Regions from separate parts of the Homo sapiens genome. Here regions 2 and 3 are each linked to region 1. The links come from fine-mapping of genetic effects on gene expression. A gene starts in region 1. Each other region holds a variant in brackets. All regions are shown on one strand. Distances are between the middles of the regions.

The links. PIP is the estimated chance that this variant, and not a neighbour inherited with it, causes the effect.
Region 2: its variant is fine-mapped to the expression of GNB1 in whole blood (TOPMed, PIP above 0.99).
Region 3: its variant is fine-mapped to the expression of GNB1 in lung (TOPMed, PIP above 0.99).

Annotation. Positions count from the first base shown.
Region 1 is chr1:1,882,933-1,893,034 of GRCh38, reverse strand. It overlaps GNB1 (G protein subunit beta 1), which reads left to right and starts at 1,948. Exons shown (of 12, transcript NM_002074.5): 1 at 1,948-2,215. It overlaps GNB1-DT (GNB1 divergent transcript), which reads right to left and starts at 1,855. Exons shown (of 2, transcript NR_168264.1): 1 at 1,652-1,855; 2 at 309-1,135. RefSeq lists silencers at 1,164-1,413, 1,474-1,573, 1,694-1,883, 2,444-2,633 and an enhancer at 3,936-4,435.
Region 2 is chr1:1,779,675-1,789,776 of GRCh38, reverse strand. GNB1 (G protein subunit beta 1) reads left to right here. Exons shown (of 12, transcript NM_002074.5): 10 at 508-724; 11 at 2,340-2,455; 12 at 2,724-4,491. The coding sequence ends at 2,446. It also overlaps a transcript of NADK not described here. Among named protein-coding and RNA genes, the nearest start is that of NADK, 6.3 kb to the right of the region's middle. RefSeq lists enhancers at 6,623-6,792, 9,102-9,201, 9,212-9,281, 9,292-9,351, 9,362-9,531 and a silencer at 6,713-7,007. The variant G/C (reference allele first, on the strand shown) is at 2,781.
Region 3 is chr1:1,829,001-1,839,102 of GRCh38, reverse strand. All of the region lies in intron 2 of GNB1 (G protein subunit beta 1), which reads left to right. Among named protein-coding and RNA genes, the nearest start is that of NADK, 56 kb to the right of the region's middle. The variant T/C (reference allele first, on the strand shown) is at 3,686.

The sequences.
Region 1 (10,102 bases):
AATAAAATAAAAATTAAAAAAATTTCACTGGGAATTCACTCCTTGCTCAACTGTGCTAGGCAGGCAGGCGCCCCTGTGGGGGCGGGGCCTCGGTGGTCCAGCGGAGGTCAGAGGCCACGCAGGGTGAGGAGCGGGTAGCATATGGTGGGGTGGAAGCAAGGATGAGAGACTGGTTACACAGGAGATAATCAGAGCCAGGTTCCTCACTCCCAAAGCAGGAGGCCCCTCATTCCGAACAGGTTGAGCCCTGTAGTGTTGGCCTGGCATCAGAGTAAACACGTGGTGCCCAAGAAAAACAGACAAACACGCCCATGAAACTGTGTGTATACATATGCGTGTGGGCATGTACATAGATGTGTTCCCTTGCTCCGCCAGCTGCAATGACACCCCAGTAGCAATGAGCACATCCGGAGCCAGATCCCGGGCTCTGCATGACATTCTCCCACAATGAACCAGGCTGCAGCAGAAATAGCTGGGTTCAGGCTGGGGCAGGGAGAATACAACAGGGCCCTGGAGCATCTCGTGCCAGAAAGAAAGGGCTCCAGAAATGATGCGGACAGGTGAAGTGGGAGGGAGAGAGAAGGGTGGCAAGGCGTGGGTTCCCTGTCTGGTGGAGGCTCCCCTAGGTAGGGGGAAGCGCGTGGCACGGAGGGCAGGTGGCGGACGCATCTGGAAGCCGCACTTACTGTGTGTCCACTTTCTCACACAAGCACCATGCACACAAAACAAGAAGGAAAACGTCAGCTGAGAGAGGCGGGTGGTGTCCCAGGGTGTGGAGAGAGTAGAAGGTGGGAAATAGGTGTTGGAGGTGGCATGGCCCCTTGAGGTTGTGGCCCTGGTTGAGGGGAGGCCCAGTGGATGAGGTTGGGTCTCTCTCCCCTTCAGCTGTGCTGGTGCAGGCCTGGAGGAAAACGGACGCCAGGTTTGGTGTGGAAGGGGAGCTCGGAGGCGATGAAGGCCCAGGCAGGTGGAAGGTGGTGGTTGAGGACCGGGGAGCAGGGCGCTGGCTGGGGAGAGGCAGAGTGAAGAAGCCGAGGGTGAGGGGCAGCCGGAACTCAGCTGGAAAGACAGCAGGAGGCGGTGGGCGCAGGGGCGGGTTCCATGGACGTTCTGGAGGCTTCTGAGGACACCAAGCCTGGAAGCCAGGACATGTGGCCTTCTTGACTTCGTTCCCCTTCCTCACCTGGAGGTCTCCAGTCCCCGCTGTCCACTGCTCAGCGGCATGGGAGGAGTCCGCGGCCTTACCCCGACACTCCCGCCCACCGGCCCCCGCCCCTGCCAGGCGGCCCTGCTCGCAGCAGCGCGAGGAGCCACGGGGTGCTGCCCTCCTCCGCAGCCCGAGGCCCACTTCACACGCACTGAGCCCAAGCGCGAGTCTCTGCCCGTCAGCCGCGTCTGAGCTCGCCGCAGTCCCTGCTTGAGAGGCCGGGGGGCACCTGCGCCTGCCCGGGACCCTGACCTGCTAGCGGGGCCTGTTGCCTCCTCTGCAGGAAGCGATCTCGCCCGCGGTGCCCCCACCCGCCCCGTCCCCGGAGGGACCGCCCCCGCCCGCGGCCTTCCCGCCCCTGCCCTGTCGCTTGAGTGCCCCCCGCCCGCCGTTACCCCACCCCCGCCCCTGGAGGAGCCCCCGCCCACGGTTACCCAACCTTACCCTGTCCCCGGAGGGCTCCACGCCCGCGTTCCCCCCGCCCCATCCCAACTCCGAGGGTCCACTGCCCCGGTCCCCATCCCGCCCGGTCCCCGCAGGGCCGGGCCGCCGGGGGTCTCCCGGGGCAGCGGTACCCGAAGGCAGCAGCACGGCCCCTTTAAGCCGCTCGGACACGCGCTCGGGGCCCGATGCGGTTTGGACGCGCACAGGCGTGCGCGTGCCCGTCGGGCCTGGCGAGCGCGCGCGACGCGCGGCGTGCGTGGTGACGCGAGCGCGTGGGGTTTTCCGAGGCTGCGGGCAGGGGCCCGCCGCGCCCATCCCGATGGCTGGAGGCGTCTGAGGGGCGGACGGAGGCGGCGGCGGCGGCGGCGGGAGCGGGAGCGGGCGGCGAGTGGGGAGCGGGGCCGGGAGTGGAGCAGCCGCCGCGGCGGGACTGGACCGAGCCTCGCCGGCGCGCACCTGCCCGCAGCGCCCGCGGAGCGCGCAGCGCGGCCCGAGCGCGACGACCTGCCGAGCGGCGGCCGAGGCGGCGGTGTGGGCGCGTCAGGCCGCGACGAGGGCGCTGAGGTGAGCGCGGCAGCCCCCAGCCCCGGACCCGGGTCCTGTTCGTCCACCCGCCCGCCCTGGGGGCGCCCGCCCCGCCCCCACCCCACCCGCCGGTCGGGGCCGCGTCTTCCTGCCCCGCCCGGGTGCGGCGGGCGGCGTCCGAAGGGGGGGCCGGGGGCTGGGGTCCGAGGTTCGGGGTGCAGGGTCGGGGTCGAGGGCGGGGTCTAGGGAGAGGAGCCGGGGTCCCAGGCCCAAGGCTGGGGGCCGAGTTTCGGCACCGGGGTGCGGGGTTGTGTGCGCCGCGGGCGCTTCCCGTGGCGGCGGCCGGGGCCCCGGGGGCGCGGGTCGGGCGGGGCCGGGCCCTGCGTGGGGAGCCGGACGTGGCTCTCGGGCCCGCGGCGCGAGAACAAAGGCCGGGCGGGCCTGCAGGCGGGGCGGTGTCGGCGGCCGGAGCCCCCGCGCGGGCCGCCTATCGGGGTGACTTTGAGGGCCGGGCGGCCGCGGGGCGCGAGCGTGGGGAAGGGGAACAATGAAATGGGGAAGCCGGGCCGCGCGCCGCGGTCGGAGTAGGGATTTAAAGCGGAAGCCGGGCGCGGCGTCGGGAAATGGGAAAATAACGGTTTCGGCCCTTTTCGCTGTGTCGAGCCGCTGAGGCAGTCGCGCTGTGGCCTCGCCCTTCTCCTGCCGAGGCCCGGGTCTGTCCGGCGCTGGCGCCCCGCGCGTGTCGACTCGAGGGTTGCGCGGACCCCGGCCCGGCCCCGCGAATGAATGGGCCCGGTGGCCGCGCCAAGATGGCGCTCCCACCGCTGCCTTTGTGGGGCGGCCGCCGCCGCGCCGAGTTTCGGGGCCCGGTTTGCGATATTCCGAAGGCCCGAAGGTGGGGGAGAGGACAGGAAATAGCACAAAGGCTGGGTGTCTTCCTCTTGCCTGGATCGGCTTTTCGGCTGGAAGCGGGGTGGGGGTGGGGAGTGGGGAGATCTGTTGAAAATTCCACAGGGCTGTCGGCTGAGGCTTTTGACTTTTAAGAACCTGCTATATTTTTTCTTGTGAATCGATAGTTGATTCAAATGATATTTTAACATTTCTTGTGTCCGTTAAATTACATGGTTAGCATGCAGAAGCAGTATCAGCTTTTGTTTGCTTAATTCATCTTCATGGAAGCCTTTTTTTTTTTTTTTTTTAAGAGATGGGATCTCTTTGTAAAAGAGATCCTGTTAACCAGGCTGGTCTCGAACTCTGGGGCTCAAGCGATCCTCCCGCCTCAGCCTCCCAAAGTGCTGGGATTAGCGGCCTTAGCCACCGTGCCCAGCCTGTCTTCATGGAAGCTTTTTCTTAAGATTGTGAAATGGGCTCCTGAAGGAAAACGCCGATGTTAAAATTTGTGTTTTGAAAAGGGAGTTGGTGTACATTTACAGTTAGGGTGTACAGTACTGGACTTATGGGTAAATAGTGTAGAAATGGTAACCTATGGTTTTCTTTTGGGGAGCATTGGTTCATTGTATTTTCATGTTGCTATCTATCTGATAACATTAGTCTCAAATAGTATTAGGTGATTAAGCAGTTGCTGGTGAGATTATTAATTAAGAAAATATGAAGATTATTTTTCATGATTAGCAAATGGACGTATTAGTTTTGTGGAAAGTTTCAGTGAACTGCATACTGAATAAGGTCTTTGGAGCAAGCATTGTTATTGATAAGGTTTTTGCATAAGTTATTTTCTAATCTGAAGTGATAGTCTTTTGGGAGAGGGAGGAGCTCTTTATTGAAAGTAAGGTTTTAATTTTCATGCTATTGACATGCATAGTCTATTCTGGATTCTTTGGGAAGGTATGTATATCAAGAAAGTGGATAGGCGGTTCCTTCTTTGCTAACGCTGGGTTCGAGGCTGGGGATGGAGGTGGTGCCACTGACATGGAGACAGGTCTGAGAGCCTCCCCAGGGTAGGACTGAATGGTGGGTTTTGTCTTGGTTTATGCTAAGGCAGAACTTTCTTTACTTTTTGAGATGGAGTTTCGCTCTTGTTGCCCAGGCTGGAGTGCAGTGGCGCGATCTCGGCTCATTGCAACCTCCGCGCCCCCGGGTTCAAGTGATTCTCTTGCCTCAGCCTCCCGAGTAGCTGGGATTACAGCTACCACCACCACACCCGGCTAATTTTTTGTATTTTTAGTAGAGATAGGGTTTCACCATGTTGGCCAAGCTGGTCTCCAACTCCAGACCTCAGGTGATTCACCCGCCTTGATCTGCCAAAGTGCTGGGATTACGAGCGTGAGCCACCGCGCCCAGCCGGTAAGGCAGAACTTTCTAACGATTAGAGCTGCGCAGAAATGAACTGCAACTGCAGGGTCCAGAGGCTGATGCTGTCAACCCTGGGGGAAGGCTGGACTGCAGGTGTTGGGCGGTGGTCCCAGGTTACGAGCATTTGGTTTCATCAACACTGAAAGTGCTCCCCCCGCCCGCCTTTTTTTTTTTTTTTGAGATTGAGAGTTTGGAAAACCAGTTAAGTTCTGAGGTGCCTGTGCCCCCTCCCAGTTAAGTGCGCACTGCCCAGGCCCAGTGTGAGGATGACATTTTATCTTCTGCGGGAACCTTTCAAGATGAGTCTTATAGAGGAAACTGTTCCAACATGAAATTTCAGCTCAGAATTGACTTTCTCAAAAGAGCACATCCACTGGCCAAAAGCTATTTCTCTCGCGTAATCTGAATTTATGACAGAACCATAGTTATCTCATCAGACAAGTACTGACAGTGCTCTTCAGTGATACCTTTAAAATATTGTTTTTTCTTTGATATCTTCAGTTAATTCTGTTTTTTTGGTGGGTGGGAAAGTTGAAGTAAATTTTCTCAGATTTAATTTTAATCTTAGAAGATTCAAGAGACTGCAGAATAGTGTGTGGTTTTTTTATTGTTTGTTTTTAAGAGTAAAACCCACTGGGTGTGGTGGCTCACGCCTGTAATCCCAGCACTTTGGGAGGTGGAGGCGGGCGGATCACATGAGGCTGGGAGTTTGAGACCAGTCTGGCCAACATAGCGAAACCTCGTATCTACTAAAAATATTAAAATTAGCCGGCGTGGTGGTGGGCGCCTGTAATCCCAGCTACTCGGGAGGTTTAGGCACGGGAATCGCTTGAACCCGGGAGGCAGGGGTTGCGGTGAGCCGAGATTGTGCCACTGGGCGACAGAGTGAGACTGTGTCTCAAAAGAGTAAAAACCTCTGTAAATCCTTTTGATGCCCAATGACTTTGATTTCAAAGCTAGTATCATCTAGGTAGATTTATGTTGATCACTTGAGAAACAGAATTTGAAAAGTTAATTTATTTCTCAAAGGAGATGTTGTACTATCCTGCAAAAGTACCAGAGCTTTGTTCTCTTCCCTTTGCTTTGCTAAAAATTTCTGGGTCTTTTGGTTTATTTTATGTGTGTGTTGGTCCACTGGAAAAGTTGTAGCTTTGTAGCTAAAAACAGCTTTGATAAAAGGATGAAAAAGGTCTTCAGGGCATCTCTAGACTTCATCTACCATCAGTTGACTTTTTGTAGCTAATACTTTAATGAATAACATTGGTATTATTTTAGAAGTGCAGTGTTGGCATTTATTATAGTTTTGTCGTTGTTTTTCTCTGCCCGAAAGATTTGGCTCATGTTGGTCTCTAAATTGGATTACATTCTTACTGTCTGTGACTTTGGCTTTAGCATTAGTGGATTGGTAATAGATATTCTCAATTTTTAAATCTGGCTTGACCATATGGCAGGCCATGTTATTTTGAAACCCCTATTTAGTGTAAGTCTCACAAGACATGGAACAAAAATTTTTATAAAATTTTAAACTGGTTTGACCGGGCGTGGTGGCTCACACCTGTAATCCCAGCACTTTGGGAGGCCGAGTCAGGCGGATCATGAGGTCAGGAGATCGAGACCACCCTGGCTAACACGGTGAAACCCCTTCTCTACTAAAATTACTTCTCTACAAAAAATTAGCTGGGCGTGGTGCTGGGCACCTGTAATCCCAGCTACTCAGGAGGCTGAGGCAGGAGAATGGCAGGAACCCGGGAGGGGGAGCTTGCAGTGAGCCAAGATCGGCCACTGCACTCCAGCCTGGGCGACACAGCGAGACTCCGTCTCAAAAAATAAAAATAAAAAAAATTTTAAACTGGTTTACATTCTGATTTCAGGTTTGCATTTGTTAAGAGTGGTTGGAGAGATTATGAAGTAGGCAATTCAGTTAAGTGTTTGGTTTAGGAACACAGAATGAGGAGATAAAATAAATTTAAAATGGAAACTATCAGAAATTTATGAAACTGCAGTGTTCAACATTACTGAAAGAAAAAGCAGGGCCAACGTATATGGGAGTGAGTGTGTATGAAGAGAGAGAAATGCAACATCACATCAGCTGCTCTGGGAGAGGGACAGAGCACCACCTATTTCAAAGCTATGCATTTTGTTCTAGAACTTTGATTGAAGAAATAGAGACAATCTATAGACATTTGAGTTTGCTAGTGGATTAGTGGAATGCTGAAAGCTTTTTTTGTGAGACAGAGTCCCACTCAGCCACCCAGTCTGGAGTGCAGTGGCGCAATCTCGGCTCACTGCAACCACCATCTCACGGGTTCAAGTGATTCTCCAGTCTCAGCCTCCCGAGTAGCTGGGATTACAGGCACCCGCCGTCATGCCCGGATAATTTTTTAAAATTTTATTTTAGTAGAGATGGGGTTTCACCATGTTGGCCAGGCTGGTCTTGAACTCCTGACCTCCGGTGATCTGCCTGTCTGAGCCTCCCAAAGTTCTAGGATTACAGGCGTGAGCCACCGTGCCCTGCCGGAATGCTGAAAGCTTTTTTAAACCTTTTAGCCTCTTGTTCTTGTGTCAGTGCCTACCATTGGGTGCCATGGTAATCAGTGGAAATTACTCCTGGCTTTCAGTGGTAGAAAAGCTTTCTGTTTTATAGAGCAATGTTGCTTGCTTGCTTTTTTTTTTTTTTAAGATTAAGTGGGCCGGGCACGGTGGCTCACGCCTGTAATCCCAGCACTTTGGGAGGCCGACGTGGGCGGATCACGAGGTCAGGAGATTGAGACCATCCTGGCTAACACGGTGAAACCCCATTGCTACTAAAAATACCAAAAAAATTAGCTGGGTGTGGTGGCGGGCGCCTGTAGTCCCAGCTACTTGGGAGGCTGAGGCAGGAGAATGGCGTGAACCCGGGAGGCGGAGCTTGCAGTGAGCCGAGATCGTGCTACTGCACTCCAGCCTGGGTGACTGAGCGAGACTCCGTTTCACAAAAAAAAAAAAAAAAAAAAAGATTAAGTGGAAGTATTTCCTTATTTATGTCTTCTTAAATTAGAATTCTGAGAAAGACCCATTTTTTAAAAGCTTACTGATTTAAAAGACCAGATTAAGATTATCTAAGGTAATTCCTTTTTTCTTTCTTTTTTTTTTGAGATGGAGTTTCCTTCCTGTTGCCCAGGCTGGAGTGCAATGGCGCTGTCCTGGCTCACTGCAACTTCTGCCTCCCGGGTTCAAGTGATTCTCCTGCCTCAGCCTCCCAAGTAGCTGAGATTACAGGTGCCCGCCACCATGCCTGGCTAATTTTTGTAGTTTTAGTAGAGATGGGGTTTCACCATGTTGGCCAGGCTGGTCTCAAACTGCTGACCTCAAGTGATCCGCCCGCCTCCGCCTCCCAAAGTGCTGGGATTACAGGTGTGAGCCACCGTGCCCAGCTTAATTTTTAAGTTTATTCTGTTGAACCTATTTTGCCATAGATAAAATATTTTTATGATTTAATAATTCATTGCTCCAAACTTACTAATGCATTATATCAAGAGAGGACTTTATGTATTAATTCATTCACCTGTTAGAATTGGAATACTGGCCGGGCACGGTGGCTCATGCCTGTAATCCCAGCACTTTGGGAGGCCCAGGCGGGCAGATCACGATGTCAGGAGATCGAGACCAACCTGGCTAACACAGTGAAACCCTGTCTCTGCTAAAAATACAAAAAAATTAGCCGGGCGTGGTGGCAGGCACCTGTAGTCCCAGCTACTTGGGAGGCTGAGGCAGGAGAATGGTGTGAACCCGGGAGGCAGACCTCGCAGTGAGTGGAGATCGCGCCACTGCACTCCAGCCTGGGCGACAGAGCAAGACTCCGTCTCTCAAAAAAAAAAAAAGAATGGGAATACTAAGGGCATCAGTGGAATGTATTCTTGTTTACTGGTGGGTAATCATGTCTCCATGCATGTCTGTGTGCAGTCCTGTAGCACTTAGAAAATATATTCCCTATGTTGATTACAGACACTCAACTTCTGCCGAGTGTTGTAGTTAATAAAGCTTAAAAAATTCTGGGCTGGGTGTGGTGGCTCATGCCTGTAAACCCAACACTTTGGGAGGCCAAGGTGAGCGGATCACCTGAGGTTGGGAGTTCAAGACCAGCCTGACCAACATGGAGAAACCCTGTCTCTACTGAAAATACAAAATTAGCCCAGACGCGGTGGCTCACGCCTGTAATTCCAGCACTTTGGGAGGCCGAGGAGGGTGGATCAGCCTGGCCAACATGGAGAAACCCCATCTCTACTAAAAATACAAAAAATTACCCAGGCATGGTGATGCATGCCTGTAATTCCAGCTACTCGGGAGGCTGAGGTTGCAGTGAGCCGAGATCGTGCCATTGCACTCCAGCCTGGGCAACAAGAAGGAAACTCCATCTCAAAAAAAAAAAAAAAATTAGTCGGGCATGGTGGCACATGCCTGTAATCTCAGCTACTCGGGAGGCAGAGGCAAGAGAATCGCTTGAACCTGGGAGGCGGAGGTTGCGGTGAGCCGAGATTGTGCCATTGTACTGCAGCCTGGGCAACAAGAGTGAAACTCGGTCAAAAAAAAAAAAAAAAAGTCCGGACACTTTATAATTAGATGAGCATGTCAAAAGAGTCTACAATAGGTTTCAGAAAATTTCTCATAGGAATTTTAAAATAATTCCTAAAATCTAGGGAGTGAGAGAAATTCAGTAGTTTTCAAAAGGATTGGCACTGTCTGAGTTAGAGCCCAGCTCAGCTCTGTTGCCTCACTGGCTGATTTGCAGTGTTAGGACTTTTATTCGCACTGAAAATCAAGATCAGTTCAACTTCTACCCTTCCACTCCACAGGAGCTTTCTGTCCTCCCTGAGCCTGCCTTAATTTAGGCCACCTGCAGTGTTAGGACTTCTGTGTCTGTCCTTATCTGTGAAACAGGCTCCTAGAGCCTCCTTCATGGGGTCATTGTGAGGATTAAATGAGTCCTGATGTGGGCACTGATAACAGAGCTCAGTGCAAGGATTAGCTATTTCTGTTGCTGATGGCCTTGCTTTGTAAAAATTTCTTTTATGGCAAGGTTAACAAATGTTATAAGATGACAGTTTACTGAGATTTTTCTTTTTTTCTCCATGGTTCCAGAAGAATATTAATTCAGGGTGTGGAACATGCATATTAGCTATCTTTGCAAATCCCTATCACTTATTTACTGCCTTACTTTCTACTAAATCTCTCACATCCTTATCTTTTCTTGAAAGGTTTTTTTTTCTTTTTCTTTTTTTTTTTTTTTTGGGACAGGGTTTTGCTGTGTCACCCAGGCTGGAGTGTGGAATGTGATGGTATGATCATGGTTCACTGCAGCCTGGACCTCCTGGGCTCATACGATCTTCTTCTCTCAGTCTCACAAGTAGCTAGGACCACGGGCACATGCCACCGTGCCCAGCTAATTTTTTTTATTGTTTGTAGAGACAGGCTGGTCTCCAACTCCTGGGTTCAAGTGATCCTCCTGCCTTAGCCTCCCAAAATGTTGGGATTATAGATGTGAGCCACAGTAACCTGCTCTTAAAGGCTTTCCTTTACCTTTGTAGAATAATCTTGAACTATGCCTCATTTTGAAAACTGGTAAGTTTATGTCCT
Region 2 (10,102 bases), 100 kb after region 1:
TGCCTCCCCAGTGCAAATCCCCTCCCATCCCAGTCCCCTGTAGTTCCTCCCCCATCCCCCCACCCTTTTTTTTTTTTTTTTGAGACGGAGTTTTGCTCTTGTTGCCCAGGCTGGGGTGCAATGGTGCAATCTTGGCTCACCGCAGCCTCCGCCGCCTCCCGGTTTCAAGCAGTTCTCCTGCTTCAGCCTCTTGAGTAGCTGGGATTACAGGCGCACGCCGCCACGCCCAGCTAATTTTGTATTTTTAGTATAGATGGGGTTTCTCTATGTTGGTCAGGCTGGTCTCAAACTCCCCATCTCAGGTGATCCACCCGCGTCAGCCTCCCAAAGTGCTGGGATTACAGGCATGAGCCACCGCACCCGGCCCAGCCCTCTGTTCTTACCAGAGCACAGTCTTGCTGGTCTTTGCCTGCTGTGTTCTCTGCAGCCCTACCATTGAGCAATCCATATTCCCAATGTTTCTTTCTGAGCGTTTACATGATGTCTTGATTTGCTTTCTCTTTCCAGTTCTTTCCAAATGGCAATGCATTTGCCACTGGCTCAGACGACGCCACCTGCAGGCTGTTTGACCTTCGTGCTGACCAGGAGCTCATGACTTACTCCCATGACAACATCATCTGCGGGATCACCTCTGTCTCCTTCTCCAAGAGCGGGCGCCTCCTCCTTGCTGGGTACGACGACTTCAACTGCAACGTCTGGGATGCACTCAAAGCCGACCGGGCAGGTACGTGGCCATGGGGCCTTTCTGTGTCTTGTGGACATTTACGTGGTATCTTTAGAGCAAACACAGAGTGGTTGCATAAGCTGCAGTGTTTTAGTATCGGTGGGACTGTGGCATGGCGTAGCAGGAGTGACAGTCGCAAACTGATGGCCCAGCTCTGACCCTCCAGGCAAGTGGACTCCGAGGAGTACCAGCAGATCTTCCCACATGCGTCGGGGAGGGCTCTGGGGAGAGTCAGTGGGCAGGAGAGGGTCAGCTGTGCAGGCTCCAGGGCCCAGCCCCGTGCTTTCCCCTCTGAACTCTGCTTCAGGGGGAGGAGTTCCATGCAGGGACACCTCTGGGTGCCGTTACAGTTAACATATCAAAGGCAAGCGTGTTATTGCCAGGTGTACAAAAGATGAGACTTCCTTACTAAAAATGGTCATTTGGGCATTTGAATTTGAGAACTGTTGACACTTACAGACTTAGATTCATTTGTCTCAGTACCTGGGAGGACAGAAGGGAGCATGGCTCCAGGTCTTGGCCCTTACCGGGGCTTCCTGCTTCCGGATGGGTGCCACTCCCACCTCCTGGTTAAACACATTTCTTTTTCTCCCCAGCCTGGGGGGACCAGAGTGGAGCCATTTCCAGCCAAGTCTCACAGTCACAGTGCTGTTGAAGGGCGGTGGAAGCCAGCCCAGGCCTTGGCAGAGCACACGCCGGCCCCTGTACTCAGCTGTGTGGTGGCTGCAGGAGGTGGAGGAGGGTGGCTGAAATGGGCCTTCGGATCCCCCTGGGAGGAAGTGGAGCTTCTGGCTGGTGATGATCCAAGCCAAGGTTATTGGGAGTGTTGACAGAAGGCCCCCTCATCACATGACAGTGACAGTGCAGTGCCAGTGGTCTCAGCCACCATCGCTACTCCTGTGTTCTGTGCCTTGTGCTGGGCTCTAGGGATCACAGACAAAGGAAAAACGGCTCATGCCTCTAAGCTCCTGTGTTACAGATTGCTTTGAGATTGGGGCGGTTTTGATTTTTTTTTTTTTTTTTTGAGATGGAGTCTCGCTCTGTCGCCCAGGCTGGAGAGCACTGGCACGATCTTGGCTCACTGCAAGCTCCACCTCCTGGGTTCCAATGATTCTCCTACCCTAGCCTCCTGAGTAGCTGGGACTACGGCCCGCACCACCACGCCCTGCTGGTTTTTGTATTTTTAGTAGAAATGGGGTTTCACCATATTGGCCAGGCTGGTCTCAAAGTCCTGACCTCATGATCTGCCTGCCTCGGCCTTCCAACGTGCTGGGATTACAGGCCTAAGCCACTGCGTCTGATGATAGTTTTGATTTTTTTGATAGTGGCCTTTGCTTCTTTTTTTAAGTTTTATAAGTGAGTGCTGAGAAGTCAATGCCAGGGGCTCTGGATTTATCGATTGCGTGTGTGTGCGTGTCTTTGAATTTTAACAAGGCTGGCCATATGCTGCAGGTTAATTCCCCACGTGGATGCAACTTTCCCTCCCTTCCTGGCCGTGGGAGACTCTGGGTCTTGTCCCATGAGAGATGCACCATCCGTCCTCGTCACAACATGGCACACAGGTGAGATCGATGCCTCTGGGCTTTGGTGTGATTCTGCTGTTGTTTGCTCCCAGGTGTCTTGGCTGGGCATGACAACCGCGTCAGCTGCCTGGGCGTGACTGACGATGGCATGGCTGTGGCGACAGGGTCCTGGGATAGCTTCCTCAAGATCTGGAACTAACGCCAGTAGGTAATGCAGCAGCCCAAATGCCCTTCTCTGAGGAGAACTGTGCGTGTTTCTCATAGAACATTTGAAGTTGTCATTAACGGTTTCTAGATAAATGTTGATGTAGCATTGATTTGGAATTGTGTTGTGGGAAACGTTTACAGAAAGCTGAAGTCACGTGCCCTCAGCTGCAGACACTCATGCAGTGATGGGAAGAGCAGTGACCTGGCTGTGCGTCTGCACTTAGATTCTCTGCCTCTTTTCACATTTCTTTAAACTCTGTTTAAAACAGCATGTGGATGCCATGGAGACTGGAAGACCATTCCAACTTGGACGCGTTACCATGAGA[G/C]CATATCCTATCCAACCGTACTAACGTGGACACCCTACACCTCCCCTCAGAACTTCAAAAGGGCAAGATCTTTTTTCCTTCACTTATTGCTGAAACCAAGAGCACAATTCCCATTGAGAGAAAGATCTCTGTGCTGTAAACTAAAACAAATTGTGCATTCCTTCCGGGGCCATCGTCTTTGTTTTCTTTTTTGTCTTGAATGAATTTTAAAAGGAAATATATAATAAAAATGTTAACCAGAAGGTAAACTTGAGTGTAATTGTCAGACAGACACACTTTTCCACCAGTGTATTTGAATTTTAGACCAGTGACCCTGTTTTGTGGCATTCATGCAAAACATGCTGAGGGCTTTGTTCATCTGGTCATCGTGTCCAAATTTCAGTCATGTTTGTAGCAAGATTTTGGAAGCATTCATATTTCCTTTTTAAAATGTATTCCTTTGTGTTCAACAGTTAATCAAAACCAGAGAGTCTAGGGCAGCCTCTCTGATGTTGTCAATGATGTAAATTCAGTCCCTGGTTTTTAATTTTCTGTCTGATGTCACAGATCATTGTTGCACACAAACGTGGCATAGAAAAGAACATGTTCAGAAGCCATGGGGCCAAGCACATGCGGGGACGGTCTCAAATGCGTGATCAGAGAATCCTTCACCTTTGCTGAAAAGTGAGCTCAGATCCAGCACCATGTTCCTCCTGACCCATCCTGTCTATCTTCTCAGTTGAGTTTTTAATCTCACTTTGGGTTTCCTTGTGAAGTTGGAGGGAAGTTTATAATAGCCTAACACTACCCCACCCCCAACTAGGAGGAACCTCTGTTTTCAAGAGAGATGCCTGTCCTGTGCTTGGATAGTCAGTCAATTATTTGTGTATGAAACAATGTACAAATCAATGTTTTGAAAATAATGATCTCAGACTTTCTAAGTTAAATTTTAAAAATTTTGATTGTTTGCCATATTGGGTGGGTTTACTCTTAGAATCGCATGCTGTAGAAATGCTCAAAAGTGCATATGGGACTCAGTCCTTAGGTGTTCTTTTTCTTTTAAGAAATAACCTCTTACAGTTGTAACCATTGCGGCTCTGTCCACTTCTCGTTGCTGCTCTGTGGCACATATCGGAAGCAGTACAGCGCGCGGCTCTACACGCTTGGGTAGCGGGATAAGTCACTGTTTTCTTTATTTCTTTAAAAAAAAAAAAGTTCTGTTGCAAACGACTGCTGTTGGATTCTGAGGGTGGGGAGGGAGAGAGAGGGAGGGAGAGGGAGTGAAGAGCCTGCCCTCCTATATGGATTCTTCAGGGCCCTCCACATCTGAGGTGGCTCATTCCCATCACACACAGATTGTCCTGGTGTTCATTTCAAGGCCAGTGTTCAGCAGCAGCGTTTGGAAAGCAGGTTCTGTGGGACCCCCCGCCCCGCCCCCCGCACTCCTTCATAGCAGCAGTAGTGGCTTCTCCATCCTGTTTTCTGCAACATTCTATACAAAACTGTGCTGTGACCTTGCGGTAGGCCTGGATCTGGCAAAGAGAATACAAATGAAACCCCTTCTTTCTCTTTCCGTCCAACAACTCTGTAGAGCTCTCTGCACCCTTACCCCTTTCCACCTTTTGTATTTAATTTTAAAGTCAGTGTACTGCAAGGAAGCTGGATGCAAGATAGATACTATATTAAACTGTACTGTTATTTAAGATGTAATAAAGCAGTTTGACATGAGGGACTTTGGTGTGGTGATTATTTACGGGTCCACTTCCAGTTTGCAACGCGCCCGCTTCCCTAAGCTGTCCCTGTTGCTGTGAGGTCTGACGGGCCTGCTCATGCCAGGCGGTGCCATGGCCGCCACCACGTCACAGAATCCATGAGTGGCGCATTGGCTCCTCGGAGGGGTTCCTGGGAAGCTCCACCTCACAGGCCAGCAGAGCAGGGAGGTCCACCTGCCATCGCCCAGACCCCTCCCCAGGCATAGGCCTTGCCCACAGCACCGTGGGAGTCTCCACAGGCGGCTGCCTTGCCTTTCTCCTCTGCCATTTCCCTCCCTTAGAATGTCTGAGGATGTTACTCCAGAGACTAGCTTTCCTTGGGACTGAACTGAGTGTTCCTCTTGGTCTGAATATAAAGAACTGCATCTAGTAAGAAAAAAATGAGCACTGGCCATGGTAGTGTGGAAAACCATGGCTGTGTGTGTCCCAAATAGCCGCTCCTAGGCTCCAGAACCATCCACTTCCCTGCTTTCCAAACTGGTGATTTTTTAAAATCTTAAATAGGCAATACAAAATTAGCTGGGCATGGTGGCACACGCCTGTAATCACAGCTACTCTGGAGGCTGAGGCAGGAGAATGGCATGAACCCGGGAAGGCGGAGTTTGCAGTGAGCCAAGATCGCACCACTGCACTCCAGCCTGGGTGAGAGAGCAAGACTGCCTCTCAAAAAAAAAAAAAAAGTAATTTTTTAATTCCCATGGCTCCAGCAGCTGGAACTTTTTTTTTTTTTCTCCCTTGATGTGGAGTCTCGCTCTGTGGCCCAGGCTGGAGTGCAGTGGCGCTATCTCAGCTCACTGCAACTTCTGCCTTCTGGGTTCAAGTGATTCTCCTGCCTCAGCCTCCCAAGTAGCTGGGATTACAGGCACGTACCACGACGCCCCGCTAATTTTTTTTTTTTTTTTTTTTTGAGACGGAGTTTCGCTCTTTTTTGCCCAGGCTGGAGTGCAATGGTGCGATCTCAGCTCACTGCAACCTCCACCTCCCAGGTTCAAGCGATTCTCCTGCCTCAGCCTCCTAAGTAGCTGGGATTACAGGCGCCTGCTACCATGCCCAGCTAATTTTTTGTATTTTTAGTAGAGACAGGGTTTCACCATGTTTGCCAGGATGGTCTCGATCTCCTGACCTTGTGATCCACCCACATCAGCCTCCCAAAGTGCTGGGGTTACAGGTGTGAGCCACCGCGCCTGGCCCAGATGCCCGGCTAATTTGTTGTTGTTTTTTGAGATGGAGTCTCGCTCTTGCCCAGGCTGGAGTGCAGTGGCGCGATCTCGGCTCACTGCAAGCTCTGCCTCCTGGGTTCACGCCATTCTCCTGGCTCAACCTTCCGAGTAGCTGGGTCTACAGGTGCCCACCACCACACCCGGCTAATTTTTGTATTTTTAGTAGAGACGGGGTTTCACCATCTTAGCCAGGATGGTCTCCATCTCCTGACCTTGTCATCCGCCCTCCTCAGCCTCCCAAAGTGCTGGGATTACAGGCCGAGCCACCGCACCCAGCCAAACTTTTTCCTAGTAAGTGAAGAAGGCTCTCAGCAGAAAGTACCTGTAGGCCCCCTCCTCCCCTGGGCACCAGAGAACCCAGCAGCCCCTCCTCTAGGCTGGCAGTCCCTGGCCGGAGAGGCTCCCATAGGGCACTTGGGATTCACGGAGCAGGGCCCAGCCGCCCTGCTCCAGGCAAGGTGCTGGGTGTGTTTCTGACGCCACCAAGGGTGCCCATCTGCCAGCACTGCAAGTGACACTATGGCGTTGTCTCCCTGGTGGGGTGACCTGGTGCTGTTTTAGGCTGCTGAAGTGGGTGTGATTGGCAGGCTGAACGGGGTGGGCTCGCCTGGCTTCGTCATCCCCCACTTTTCCCTGAAATAAATCAGTTCTTCATAGACATGCAAGTTCTTCACAAGCCCTAACCCTGCCAGCTGTCTTACAAAAACCCCACTTAAAATCACTAGAGAGTTGAACTTGTCTTGGAGGCGTCAAAAGAAAAAAAAAATTAAAAATTAAATGCAGAGAGTACCTGAGGCTCTTTCCTGGCTGGCAGTTCCTGGGAGGGAGGGGCTCCAGCAGCCGGGAGGCAGGGTGCCGGCCTGCAGTGGCCTATCTTGGTCCCTGCCCAGAGTAAATAAAGGCCGAGCATCTCAGCACGGCTGCCACACCCCCGACTCCACTTCCTCCCTTTGGGGATTCCTGTTGGCTTCTGTGTCCTAGCCTGGCACCCCGCAGACTGAGGGAGCTGGCATGTGGGACCTGGGACCCTCTGGTGCCCCTTCCCCTTGGCTTTGGCCTGGAAGAGCCAGAGCTGAGGGGGACCCCTCCCTGGGGCGGCCTGCCTGTCCCTTGGCGGGCATGGAGGCCACTGCCCCACTTTCTTAGCAAAACAGGAAATGAAAACGGGCGCCAACAACGTGCACTTGGACAGCGGCACTGACTAAGGCAGTGTGGAAAGAGGAGGATAATTCCACACTGGCTGAGTGAACTGCAATCATTTTCAAACTGTAGGCACAGAAATCTAGTTTGTAGATTGCATTAGCCTGGCCTATGCAGGAGCAGCGCCCTTTGTCGCCAGCAGCTCCGCGGTGTGGGGGCCCCTGGCGCGCTTCCTGTGTCCGGGTCACCTGGCTCCGCCCCGCTTGCGCGGGCGCACCTGTCGCAGGTGGACACAGGCAGTGGAGTGACCTGCAGCTCGCTCCGGCTGTGGGCTGTTCCTGCAGGGCCTCGGACCTCCTTTGACCAAGCGGCGCGGGGTCGCCCCTGTGCTCCATGTCCCAGGGATGGAGGTTCCCCACCTCAATTTTACTCTAGCACGTGGCACGCACGTCCACACTTGAGCAGGACAAGGTTTCCGTTCTGTCCCCTCCGTGTCACGCACCTAGCAGAGGCTGGCCCTCAGCAGGATGCGTGGGGAGGCGCGCTCTGCCCACGCGAAACGGGGACACTTCAGCGGCCTGGCGCGGCCCCCCGCTCCCCCCCGAGCCGGACCTGGGAGCCTGAGTGACTGGGGCCAATAGAAGGGCCGGCCGGGAACCGAGCGCTCCCGGGAAAGGCCGCCTCGGCCCCTCCCACTACTCTCTGGCCTCGCCCTGTCCCCTACCCCCACCCCCCAGCTCCCTTTCCTCGCTGGGTGACCTTGAGCAAGTTACTTGGCCTCTCTGTGCCTCTGGCCCCCGCGTGAAAAATGTGGACAATAAACGTACCAGGCTGTGGCCGGGCGCTGTGGCTCACGCCTGTAATCCCAGCACTTTGGGAGGCCGAGGTGGATGGATTACCTGAGATCAGGAGTTCAAGACCAGCCTGGCCAACATGATGAAACCCCGTCTCTGCTAAAAATACAAAAAATGAGCCGGGTTCAGTGGTGTGCGCCTGTAACTCCAGCTCTGGAGGCTGAGGCAGGAGAATGGCTTGAACCCGGGAGGCGGAGCTTGCAGTGAGCTGAGATCATGCCACTACACTCCAGCCTGAGCTACAGAGCGAGACTTCGTCTTATACTAGGCTGCTTGGTAAGGATCTTGTGAGGACACAGGGAGTCCCAGTCCTGCCAGGTGGTTACTGTTGATGATCCCCGCCCACTCTAGGCTCTCACCACTTCAGGGTCCTGGTCCTTGCTGCTGCCTCTGCCTGAGAGAGAAACACTTGTCCCTGGGTACCTTGGTCAAAACTGTACCCCAACCCCTGCCTGCCCCCACCAATTCTGCTTCTTGCCCGTCTGCCCCACTAGAAGGTGAACACCTGATGGACTTTGGTTTCCACTGTTGAATCCTCAGTATGCCCTGCACATGGCTGGCATCCTGGGAAAGAGGTTGCCCCTCGCCCCAAACCAGGCCAAACAGAAGACTGTCATGTGAGCAGATCCAGACACTGGCCCCTGCAGACGCCCCTATCCTGGCTTTCAGCCTGGGCAGGGCCTGTGCCGGGTGCTGGCTGGAGGCTGGATGAGATGACCAGATAGCCTGCCATACTGATGTCCTTCACTGGGAGCCTCAGTCCTTCCCAGTCATCCTTTCCCCAGGCTCCAGGCCACTTACCCTTGTGGGTTCTGGGCAGACTTCGTTCACCCAGTTTACTGGAGCCAGGCCACCTGAAGCCAACTTCCCTCTCTCCTCAGCCTCCCCAGGAGCAACCTGTACCCCAGTGCACCCCATCCTGCTCCATCCCTCATGGCCTCCGTTCCCCCTTCTCCCTCCACCCTCCCCATCCCTGCTGACCCCCAGAAGAGGATGGGTCCAGGTTTTGGGGGTTCTGAAGTAAACAACATGGGAGCCATCCTTAAAGAATACAAAAAACAATGCGAAATTATGTGAAGAGTCCACTGCCACCTTGAGCAATGGCAGCCCTGGGGCTGAGGAAGGTCAGGGCAGGGGATGCCACCCACTGCTGCCCCATCCCTGGGGCCTGGTCAGGCAGGAGGGGGCCTTTCCTGACCCCCAATCCCTTGAAGGCAGAGCCTCTTCCTGTGCACCATCTGGCAGAAGCCCCCATGATAGCCCTGGACCCTTCTGTTCCTGCTGCGGGAACATCTCTTCCCTTTGGTCTCAGCCCAAGCAAAGCTGCCTCTTGGACCATTCTGGGTGCCCTAAGGAGCCTTCCCAGCTTTGGTCTTAGTTATTGCTGGCCAGGCCTGGGGTGAGGTGTGGGTGTGAGATCTTGGCCCCTGAATCTTCAAGGTCATATCCGGGGCCTGCCCTGAGAAATTGCACAACCTGTCAGCTGAAGGAAACCACAGCCCTGGTTTTGTTTTCTCATCTCTGAAACAGGGAAGCTCTCCTGCAGGCAGTGCCCAGGCCCAGGGTAGACAAAGGGTTTTCATGCCACAGACGGGGCAGCTGCTGGAGCTCCCTACACAGCGGGACACGCGAAGGGCACCTGCTGTGTGACCTGGGGCCCACGACAGTCACTGGTTGCCTCTGCAGAAGCAGTTGACTGCCTCCACTCTAGAAGATTCTACTGAGGCCTGGCTCAGTGCCTGGCTTGTGGGTGCGCCATCTAGATCAAGCATTATTATGCTAATGATCATATGCAAAAACTCAGCTCACGCATTATTATGTTAATGATCTTATCCGCCCCCTCTCCCCCCGCCAAAGAAAAAGAACTGGGCAGCTCAAGGCCGCTTCTGTGGGTGTGGCTGGTGGTCACTTTGAAACAGTTGGGTTTGCAAAATAACCCCGGGAGAAGTTACAGAGCTTAAGAAATCCCCCAAGTTCTCATGATCCTTGCTTCCCTTTCCAGTCACCCTTGGTGCCCTGTACTTCACTGTGGTCCTGAACTGAAGAGCTGTGTTTTTCAGGAAGACTTGGCCAGGCCGTGTTCCGTGTCTCTGGATTCAAGTCCCAGGAGTCCTGACCAGAGAGCAGGTATGCGGGTGTGGGGAAGGGCTGCAGAGGACTCAGGTCCACACCGACCCTGGGCCAGGTGATCACACAGAAAGTATAGACAGGGACTGAACCTCAGAAAACAATGGCTGGGCCAGGTGCAGTGGCTTACGCCTATAATCCTAGTACTTTGGGAGGCCGAGGCGGGTGAAGTTTGAGACCCAGCCTGGGCAAAATGGTAAAACCTCATCTCTACACACACACACACACAC
Region 3 (10,102 bases), 54 kb after region 1:
TTGGTTTTTTAAAGAGACAGTGTTTTGCCATGTTGCTCAGACTGGATTCTAACTCCTGGGGTCAAGGGGTTCTCTCACCTCAGCATCCTGAGTAGCTGAGGCTATAGACATACGCCAGCATGCCTGGTCAATACCCTGGTTTTTGTTACAGTTTTTTTCTATCTCTTTTAAGCCAAAGTTGGTTTTCAAAACAATTTGATCCTCAAAAAAAGCTTCCATTTAGTGTTGAGCAAGAAGGTTTAGGGTCCCAGTGATGAGGATTTACCTTCTGAATCAGAGTGGTACATCGCTAGTTTTTTTCGTTAGAAAGCAGGAGAGCCCTTTTTTCAAATCAGATCTTAGTTGAAATACCAATATATGGCCGGGTGCGGTGGCTGATGCCTGTAATCCCAGCACTTTGGGAGGTCAGGTTGGGTGGATCACGAGGTCAGGAGATCGAGACCATCCTGGCTAACACGGTGAAACCCTGTCTCTACTAAAAATACAAAAAATTAGCCGGGTGCGGTGGTGGGCGCCTGTAGTCCCAGCTACTCTGGAGGCTGAGTCAGGAGAATGATGTGAACCCAGGAGGCGGAGCTTGCAGTGAGCCAAGATCATACCACTGCACTCCAGCCTGTGGGACAGAGCGAGACTCCGTCTCAAAAAAAAAAAAAGAAAAGAAAAAAAAGTAAGGTGAACATGATTCAGGAAAACAAAACAAAACAAAAACCTTTTTGTTTGAATAAAGTGGGAATAATGAAGCCATGTTCGTAGTGAGTGAGTCTGGGTGAGGAGGGTACATGGTTTCTTTGTATTATTCTTGCAACTCTTTGAAGTTTGAAATAATTTTAAATTAAAAAGCAAAATTAAATTGAATAGCAATTAGGGGCTGGAACAATTGGATATTCTTTTTTTTCTTTTGAGACAGAGTCTTGCTCTGTTGCCCAGGCCGAAGTGCAGTGGTGCAATCTCAGCTCTCTGCAACCTCCCCCTCCCAGGTTCAAGCCATTCTCCTGTCTCAGCCTCCCAATTAGCTGGGATTACAGGCGCTCACCACCACACCCAGCTAATTTTTGTATTTTTAGTAGAGACGGGGTTTCACCATGTTGGTCAGGCTGGTCTCGAACTCCTGACCTCAGGTGATCCACCCGCCTTGGCCTCCCAAAGCTGTGGGATTACAGGCGTGAGCCACCACGCCTGGTTAGTCAATTGGATATTCTTACGCAAAAGGAGAACTTGACATCATGTACAGAAATTAACTCAGGCCAGGCAAGGTGGCTCACCTGTAATCCCAGCATTTTGGGAGGCCAAGGTGGGCAGATCATCAGGTCTGGAGATCGAGACCATCCTGGCCAACATGGTGAAACCCCGTCTCTACGAAAATACAAAGGAAAAGATTTAGCCACGTGTGGTGGCACGCCCCTGTAGTCCAGCTACTCAGGAGGTTGAGGCAGGGGAATCGCTTGAACCCAGGAGGCAGAGGTTGCAGTGAGCTGAGATTGCACCGTTGTGCTCCAGCCTGGTGACAGAGTGAGACTCCGTGTCAAAAAAACAAAAACAAAAACAAAAAGGCCAGGCATGGTGGCTCACGCCTGTAATCCCAGCACTTTGGGAGGCCAAGGAGGGTGGATCACGAGGTCAAGAGATCGAGACCATCCTGGCTAACACGATGAAACCCCGTCTCTACTGAAAATACAAAAAATTAGCCAGGCGTGGTGATGGGCACCTGAAGTCCCAGCTACTCAGGAGGCCAAGGCAGGAGAATGGCATGAACCCAGGAGGCGGAGCTTGCAGTGAGCCAAGATCACGCTACTGCACTCCAGCCTGGGTGACAGAGTGAGACTCCGTCTCAAAAAAAAAAAAAAAAATTAACTCAATGGATCATATACCTAAATATAAAACGTAAAATTAGAAAAAATGAGATTTTGAATTAAGCAAACAGTTTTTAGATGTGAGATCAAAGATAGAATGCGTAAAAGAAAACATTTATAAATTGAATTTGTTCAAAATTTAAAACTTCTGCTCCTTAGAAAAAACAGAGAACGAAAGACAAACCATAGTCTGGCAGAAAATATTAGCAAATGTCTTTTAGATGACTTGTATCCAGAATAGGTAAGAACTCTCAAAACTCAATTTTGGCTAGGTACTATGGCTAACACCTGTAATCCCAGCACTTTGGGAGGAGGATTGCTTGAAGCCAGTTGTTCGATACCATCCTGGGCAATAAAGTGAGACCCCTGTCTCTTCAAAAAAAAAAAAAAAAAAAAGTTAGCAGTCGGGCACGGTGGCTCACACCTGTAATCCCAGCACTTTGGGAGGCCCAGGCAGGCGGATCACCTGAGGTTGGGAGTTCGAGAACAACCTGGCCAACATGGGGAAACCCCATCTCTACTAAAAATACAAAAATTAGCTAGGTGTAGTGGCTTATGCCTATAATCCCGGCCATTTGGGAGACTGAGACACAAGAATCACTTGAACCTGGGAGGTGGAGGTTGCAGTGAGTCCAGGTTGTGCAACTGCACTCCAGCCTGGGTGATAAAGCGAGACTGTCTCCAAAAAAAAAATTTAGCCAGGCATCGTGTTGTGTGTCTGTAGTACCAGCTACTTGGGAGGCTGAGGTGGGAGAATCACTTGAGCCCGGGATGTTGAGGCTGCAGTGAGTCACGATCACACCACTGTACTCCAGCCTGGACAACAGAGCGAGACCCTGTGTCAAAAAAAAAAAAAAAAAAAAAAGCAATATTAAGAAAACAGGTAACCCAATAAAAAAGAGGCAAGTGACTTGAACAGACACTTTACCAGAAACTGTATAGACAGCAATTGAGTGCCTCAGAAGCTCAGCAGTCAGCGAGATGCAGATGGAGACTACAGCCCACGCCCCCATTAGAATGGCTGTGACACCCACCCAGCGTTGTTGGGCGTGAGGAGCCGGGACTCTCCACATTGCTTATAGGATGTTGGGAATGTGACCCAGCATAACCATTTTGAAAAGAGTTGGTTTTTTTTGTTTTTTGAGTTTGTTTTTTGTTTTTTTGAAATAGGGTCTCACTCTGTCTCTTAGACTGGAGTACAATGGTGTGATCATAGCTGACTGCATCCATGACCTCCTGGGCTCAAGTGATCCTCTGGCCTCAGCTTCCTAAGTAGTTGGGACTATAGGCACGCACTACCATGTCTGGCTTTTTTTTTTTTTTTTTTTTTCTTTTTTTAATTCTTGTAAGACGGGGTCTCAGTATGTTGCCCAGGCTGGTCTTCAATTCCTGGGCTCAAGTGATCCTCCTGCCTTGCCTCGGAAAGTGCTCAGATTATAGTCATGAGTCACTGCACCTGGCCTGGCATTTTCTTGGAATGTTCAACACACACCTGTAGTATGATCCAGCCATTCCACCGCTAGGAATCTGCCCAAGAGAAGTGAAAGCAGATGTTCTCATAAAGACTTGTACATGTAACAACATGCACAGATTTCAAAGTATCACATCTATCTGATTAACTCCACTGTTACACTGGTTGCCACTGCTACATATATTTTTGATTTCTGCAAAAGGGCCTACTGCACTGACTGGATGGAAAGTGTGGCAGGTGAGGCAGGAGGTAGTTTTCTGGACATTACTTAAAACTTTCAGGGCAACAGTTTTACACCTGCTTTCATAGCAAGTCATATTTAGTAAGCATTTACTGTGTCAGTCATGGTTCTAAGGGGCTTGCA[T/C]GGATTCTAATGGAATTGTCATAGCATGAGCTGTGGGGACTATTACTGTCCCCACTTTCAGACAAAAAAATGTAGGCAGAGAGAAGTTAGGAAACCTACTGGAGGCCACCTGGTGAGAAGAGATAGAGTCTGGGTTAGAACCTGGGGCTTCCAACTTTCCTGCCATGAAGCGTCACTCTGCTTCCAGCCAGGGCTGTCAGACATCATTGGTCCTGCTTAAGTGGGCTGGACCTGCAAATGCCAATAAAAACACGGAAGTTTTTCTAGGAACAGAATTCTAACCCCCACCGCCCATTTGCTGTTGGGAAAGCACATAGTATTCATTGTAGTTTGCAGCAGTAAATGTAAAAACAAAGATTATTTTTATATACTGGAGTGCAGATGGCATGGCACACAGCAGTCTTTCCCTAAACCTAAGGATTTCCAGGCCCCTTATAAAAGGTGCTTGGAGGCCGGGTGCAGTGGCTCACGCCTGTAATCCCAGCACTTTGGGAGGCTGAGGTGGGCGGATCATGAAGTCAGGAGATCAAGACCATCCTGGCTAACACGGTGAAACCCCGTCTCTAATAAAAATTTAAAAAATTAGCAGGGCATAGTGGCAGGCGCCTGTAGTCCTGGCTACTTGGGAGGCTGAGGCAGGAGAATGGCATGAACCCGGGAGGCGGAGGTTGCACTGAGCCGAGATCGCACCACTGCACTCCAGCCTGGGCAACAGAGTGAGACTCCATCTCAAAAAAAAAAAAAAAAAAAGTGCTTGGAGTTTAGCCTCCTCTGTTGTGTGCGCTGCATGATTGTTAGTTTCTCACCACCTTTCCCTGTTAGACCCGTCTTCTGGATGGATGCCATTCATTTCATGAGACTCCATCAGTTACATATAAAGTTTGGCTTTGAAATGATCAAAGTGGGACTTCCAATTTGGCCTCAACATGTTTGAAGATGTGTATCTATTGAATGATTTCCAATTGTCCTAGTATGTGCTAGATTTTGTGCTCCGCCCTAAAAGCAAAAAGAGGCCATAGGCTAACAGGGTTAGAAAAGGGAGAGCAGAATGGGAGATCAGATGTTTTTTGTGATGCATGAGAAATAATAAGGCTTCGGGAGAGTCAGTAGCCACTTCTGGGATTTCAGAGTTCCAAGGGTCAGAGGTAAGCTCTTAGCAGCTGTGCCTCACTGGCTCACCCCTGGCTGTTAGACCCCTCCCTGGAGAATTGCCTTCTGAGGGCTTTGTGACCGCACACCATAGTTCCTGCCCTTCCCCCAGTTGCCAGCGTCTAATGGGTGAGTGAGCTCACTTGTGACTGGGACATGAAGGAGATGATTCTGGGGAGTCTCTTCACTTAGTCCAGAAATCCTCCCTCCATTGTTTGCTTTCTCTCCTTTTTCCCTTGAAGTTTATTTGTTAAAGACAGACTAACCGACCTGCCTGGTCGTCTGTCCTGGAGTGTTTCCCAGGCCATTGTGTAGTACCGTTGCCTCTGTGGGGTCATTGAACATGTTTCCCTGTCTTCTAGTTCTAGAGCTTTGGTCACATTCACTTTTTCGTTAAGATTACTTTATAGGCACAGGCAAAATCCTAAGGTAAGATTTTTAAAATTGTTACCATTGCAAAAAATAGCACCTCAAACAAGAACAGTTGTGTTATTTTTGCCCATCTGCCTGCTGCTCAAATGTTGGCCCATTAGCAAGGTCATGTCTAACAGCCATGCAAAGCAGCATCCTCCCTGCCCTCGTTGGCACACTTCACCCGTTCGCAGTGACTGTGTACGCTCCCAGCCTCTGTAACTCCACGTGATTTACCTGTTTGTCTTCTGTCTCCCTCAAACTAGAATCCAGCCTGGTTCATGCTGCTCAGCACCATGCTGAGGCTCTACAGTGCCTGTTGTGTTGGAGGGAGGGTCTGCGCATGCGTTGCTCTGCAGCTGCGTTAGTGGTCGTGTCCTTTATCAGTTGCGGTGGTCCCCTGCTCCCCTTATTCCTCACAGTATTGTTAGGAGCGGTGCGTAAGGGAAGCAGGGCCTGAGGACTTTTTCCGTTGCCCTTTGAATTCCCACAGTCTTAGTTTTGGAGATTGACCTGGACTTGGGAATGAAAGAAAAATGGAAAAGTGAGTGAAATTGGTTTAAATTCCTCATGCAAACTCCTCTCTTTCAAAATGCTGCTTCGTCTTGGAGGTGAGCTGTGATCCTTGTGTGTTTGGTCAAGTTAGCAAATTTCCTGCCCCGGTGTAAGACACTGGGGCCGGTTTGGACTTCGGAAGTTGTCCAAACCATCCAGAGATGCAGCCATCCAGTGCTGCACAGGAGGCTCAGGGGTGTGCGGCTAGCTGGTGACCAGGTGACTCAGGACTGCCCTGTTGCTGCTTGGTGGTGGGACCACATGTGTGCACTTTGGTGAGCATGGTGCCTGTTGTCCTTGAGATTGTTAGTCAAAGGTACACGTCATAGTTTAATCACTGTGAGACTGACAGAGCACTTTCAGATTGGTTGTCTGATTTAATTTTCATTTTAGCTCTGTGATATAGATAACACCATTCCCATTTTGAATTAAGCAGATTAGAGTAAAAAACAATTTAGTGAAAGCATTATTCTTTGTATGTTGCAGAACCAGAACTTGAAATTATTTTTCAATATCTGTACCCTATTTTGTCATTGGCAAACTTGCAGCCTGAATGTTGTTATTGGTGACTGTGTAATATGGGGTCCTGAGGGCACCGCTGAGGTGCCCCTCCTAGACTCTCAGGGGTCTGGATGAGAGGCCTGGGCTGCTGCATTGCCATGAAGGGTAGAGGCACTACACGGAGCACATTGCATTGCAAATATGAAATATTCTGACTTTAAAAATCTTGCTAACACTTGACTCACAAAGATGTTGTTCTAAAGTAGGGGCAGATCCCTTCACCTGCTTGCTTTTAAGTTATTCAAATCTCTCTCAAAAGGATTTCCAAAACTCAGATTCTGAATAAAAGCCAATGGCAGATATGGGTCATCAGGAAGACTAGACATGAGGCCTTAGCAGAGCCTGTCTTAGTGGATTAGACGGGCGGGCTCTTGGAGTCAGCACAGCCAGAGCTTAGCCGTGACGTCGGCACCGGAGGAGAGGAGCCCAGGCCAGGGAAACCTGGTGGTGGGTGTTCTGGAAGGTCTGGGGGACTGAGGGAAGCGAAGAGAAAAGCAAGAGCAATTAAATGTGAGTAAGACTTTTAAAATTTACATTTATTCTTTAATTTTCAAAGGAAGCTGCATCAATATTACGTTTAGTAGAAAAACGTGACTAATAGTTATAATAAAAATGCTATTCTATCTTTCTTTAAAGTGAGTATATTTTTCTTTTTTCTTTTCTTTTTTTTTTTTTTTTGAGACAAGGTCTCACTCCATGTGCTCAGGCTAGAGTGTAGTGGAACAGTCATGGCTCACTGTAGCCTCAATTTCCCAGGCTCAAGTGGATTCTCCCACTTCAGCCTCCCAAGTAGCTGGGACTACAGGCGTGTGCCACTGCGCCAGCTAATTTTTGCATTTTTAGTAGAGACCAGGTTTTTGCCATGTTGTTGCCCAGCCTGGTCTTGAACTCCTGAGCTCAAGCCATCTGCCAGCCTCAGCCTCCCAAAGTGCTGGGACTACAGGCATGAGCCACCGCGCCCAGACCTATTTTAATTATAATAAAGCAGCTACAATTACTACATGTGACCGGGTGCGTGTAATCCCAGTACTTTGGGAGGCTGAGGCAGGCAGATGACTTGAGGTCAGGAGTTCAAGACCAGCCTGGCCAACATGGCGAAACCCTGTCTCTACTAAAAATACAAAAATTAGCCAGGTGTGGTGGTGCATGCCTGTAATCCCAGCTACTTGGGAAGCTGAGGAAGGAGAATCGCTTGAACTCAGGAGGTGGAGGTTGCAGTGAGCCGAGATCGCGCCATTGCACTCCATCCAGCCTGGGCCTCAGAGCTAGACTCAGTCTCAAATAAAATAACTATATGCAAATTTATATTATTTTTGACTTAGTATATAGTAAGCGTTTTCCCAAATTATTACTGTCTTCCTTATTGTTCTTAGCAATATGTTACAGTTATTCCAGTAACTATTTAGAGACAGGATCTTGCTCTGTTGCCCAGATTGGAGTGCAGTGGTGCTATCATAGCTCACTGCAGCCTTGAACTCCTGGACTCAAGCGATCCTCCCACCTCAGCCTCCCAAGTAGGTAGGACTACAGGCACGTTCCACGATACCCAGCGAATTGCATCAAGTAACTTTTTTTTTGAGATGGAGCCTCATTCTGTCACCCAGGCTGGAGTGCAGTGGCACGATCTCTGCTCACTGCAGCCTCCGCCTCCCAGGTTCAAGCCGTTCTCCCACCTAAGCCTCCCGAGTATGTGGGATTACAGGCACGCATCACCACACCTGGCTAATTTTTGTATTTTTTAGTAGAAACGGAGTTTCACCACGTTGGCCAGGCTGGTCTCGAACTCCTAACCTCAGGTGATCCACCTGCCTCAGCCTCTCAAAGTGCTGGGATTATAGGCTTGAGCCATTGCACCTGGCTGCATCAGGTAACTTTAAAAAGTTAACTTTAGGCTGGGTGTGGTGGCTCATGCAATAGATTAGAGTCTAGCGCTTTGGGAGGCCTTGGCAGGAGGATCACTTGAAGCCAAGAGTTTGAGACCAGCCCGGGCAACATAGCAAGGCCTCGTCTCTACCAAAAATTTCAAAAATAGCTGGGTGTGATGGGTGGAGTCTGCTTGTAGTCCTGGCTACTCTGGAGGCTAAGGTAGAAGGATGGCTTGAACTGCAGTGAGCTATGATCATGCCACTCACTCCACCCTGGGCAAGAGTGTGAGACCCTCACAGAAATTTTTTTTAAAAAATGTAACATTAAGGCTGGGCGCGGTGGCTCACTCTTGTAATCCCAGCACTTCGGGAGGCTGAGGCGGGCGGATCACGAGGTCAGGAGATGGAGACCACGGTGAAACCCCGTCCCTACTAAAAATATAAAAAATTAGCTGGGCGTGGTGGCGGGCGCCTGTAGTCCCAGCTACTCGGAGAGGCTGAGGCAGGAGAGTGGCGTGAACCCGGGAGGTGGAGCTTGCAGTGAGCTGAGATCGCGCCACTGCACTCCAGCCTGGGCGACGGAGCAAGACTCCATCTCAAAAAAAAAAAAATGTAATATTATTTTATTGAAACTGAAAAGTATAAAGAAAAAAATGTTTCTTTGTTCTAGGACCCCAGATTAGCCTCTGTTAACTTTGTATGCGTGTGTTGGTGTGTAGGGGGGTTAGTAAGCAAACTATATTTGAAGAATAATGAGAAGAATAAAAGCTGCTAACCTGTTTCTCTTTCTCCAAAAACAACGCCATAACATCTGGTGTGTGTAGAAAAAAGATGGCGGGCCGGGCGCAGTGGCTCACACCTGTAATCCCAGCACTTTGGGAGGCCGAGGTGGGCGGATCACCTGAGGTCAGGAGTTCAAGACCAGCCTGGCCAACATGATGAAACCCTGTCTCTACTAAAAATACAAAAAATTAGCCGGTTGTGGTGGCATGTGCCTGTAGTCCCAGCTACTCGGGAGGCTGAGGCAAAAGAATCGCTTGAAATCGGGAGGCGGAGGTTGCAGTGAGCCAGCACTGTGCCACTGCACTCTAGTCTCAGCAACAAGAGCAAAACTCCATCTCAAAAAAAAAAGAAAAAAGATGGCTTGCCCTGGCATTGGCGTTTGTCCTTCTTGTACACACAAAAGCATCATGCTTTGTACACTGTTCGTTTTTGTTTCGTTCACTGTCTTCACGGTAAAGATGAACTAAGAGCCACTGAGAAGGCTGTTTATGGGAACCAGAAGGTTGTTTGCTTCCCTTAAGTTCGCTCTTCCTGGCACCTGGTTCCCTTGCAGCCCATGGGGAATGTGATGGTCACGTTTTCTCGTCTCTCCTGCCTCATCCCATCAGCCAGTTCACTGCTGTGCCTGAACTCCTGTACAGGGTGTCTGGTGCATGTCCACATAACAAAAAGATGGTACTGATCATTGAGTTTATCTCCAAAAATTTTTTTCAATTTGATTGTAGAAAATACATTTTTAGGCGGGGCATGATGGCTCATACCTGTAATCCCGGCATTTGGGAGGCCGAGGCGGGCGGATCACCTGAGGTCAGGAGTTCCTTACAGCCTGGCCAACGTGGTGAAACCCCGTCTCTACTAAAAATACAAAAACTAGCCAAGCGTGGTAGCATACGCCTGTAATTCCAGCTACTCGGGAGGCTGAGGCAAAAGAATCACTTGAACCTGGGAGGCAGAGGTTGCAGTGAGCAGAGATTGCATCATTGCACTGCAGCCTGGGCGATAAGAGTGAAACTCCGTCTCAAAAAAGAAAAGAAAAGAAAATATATCTTTATCCTGGAGACTAGAGAATGTAATTTTTTTAAAAAAATTGAAA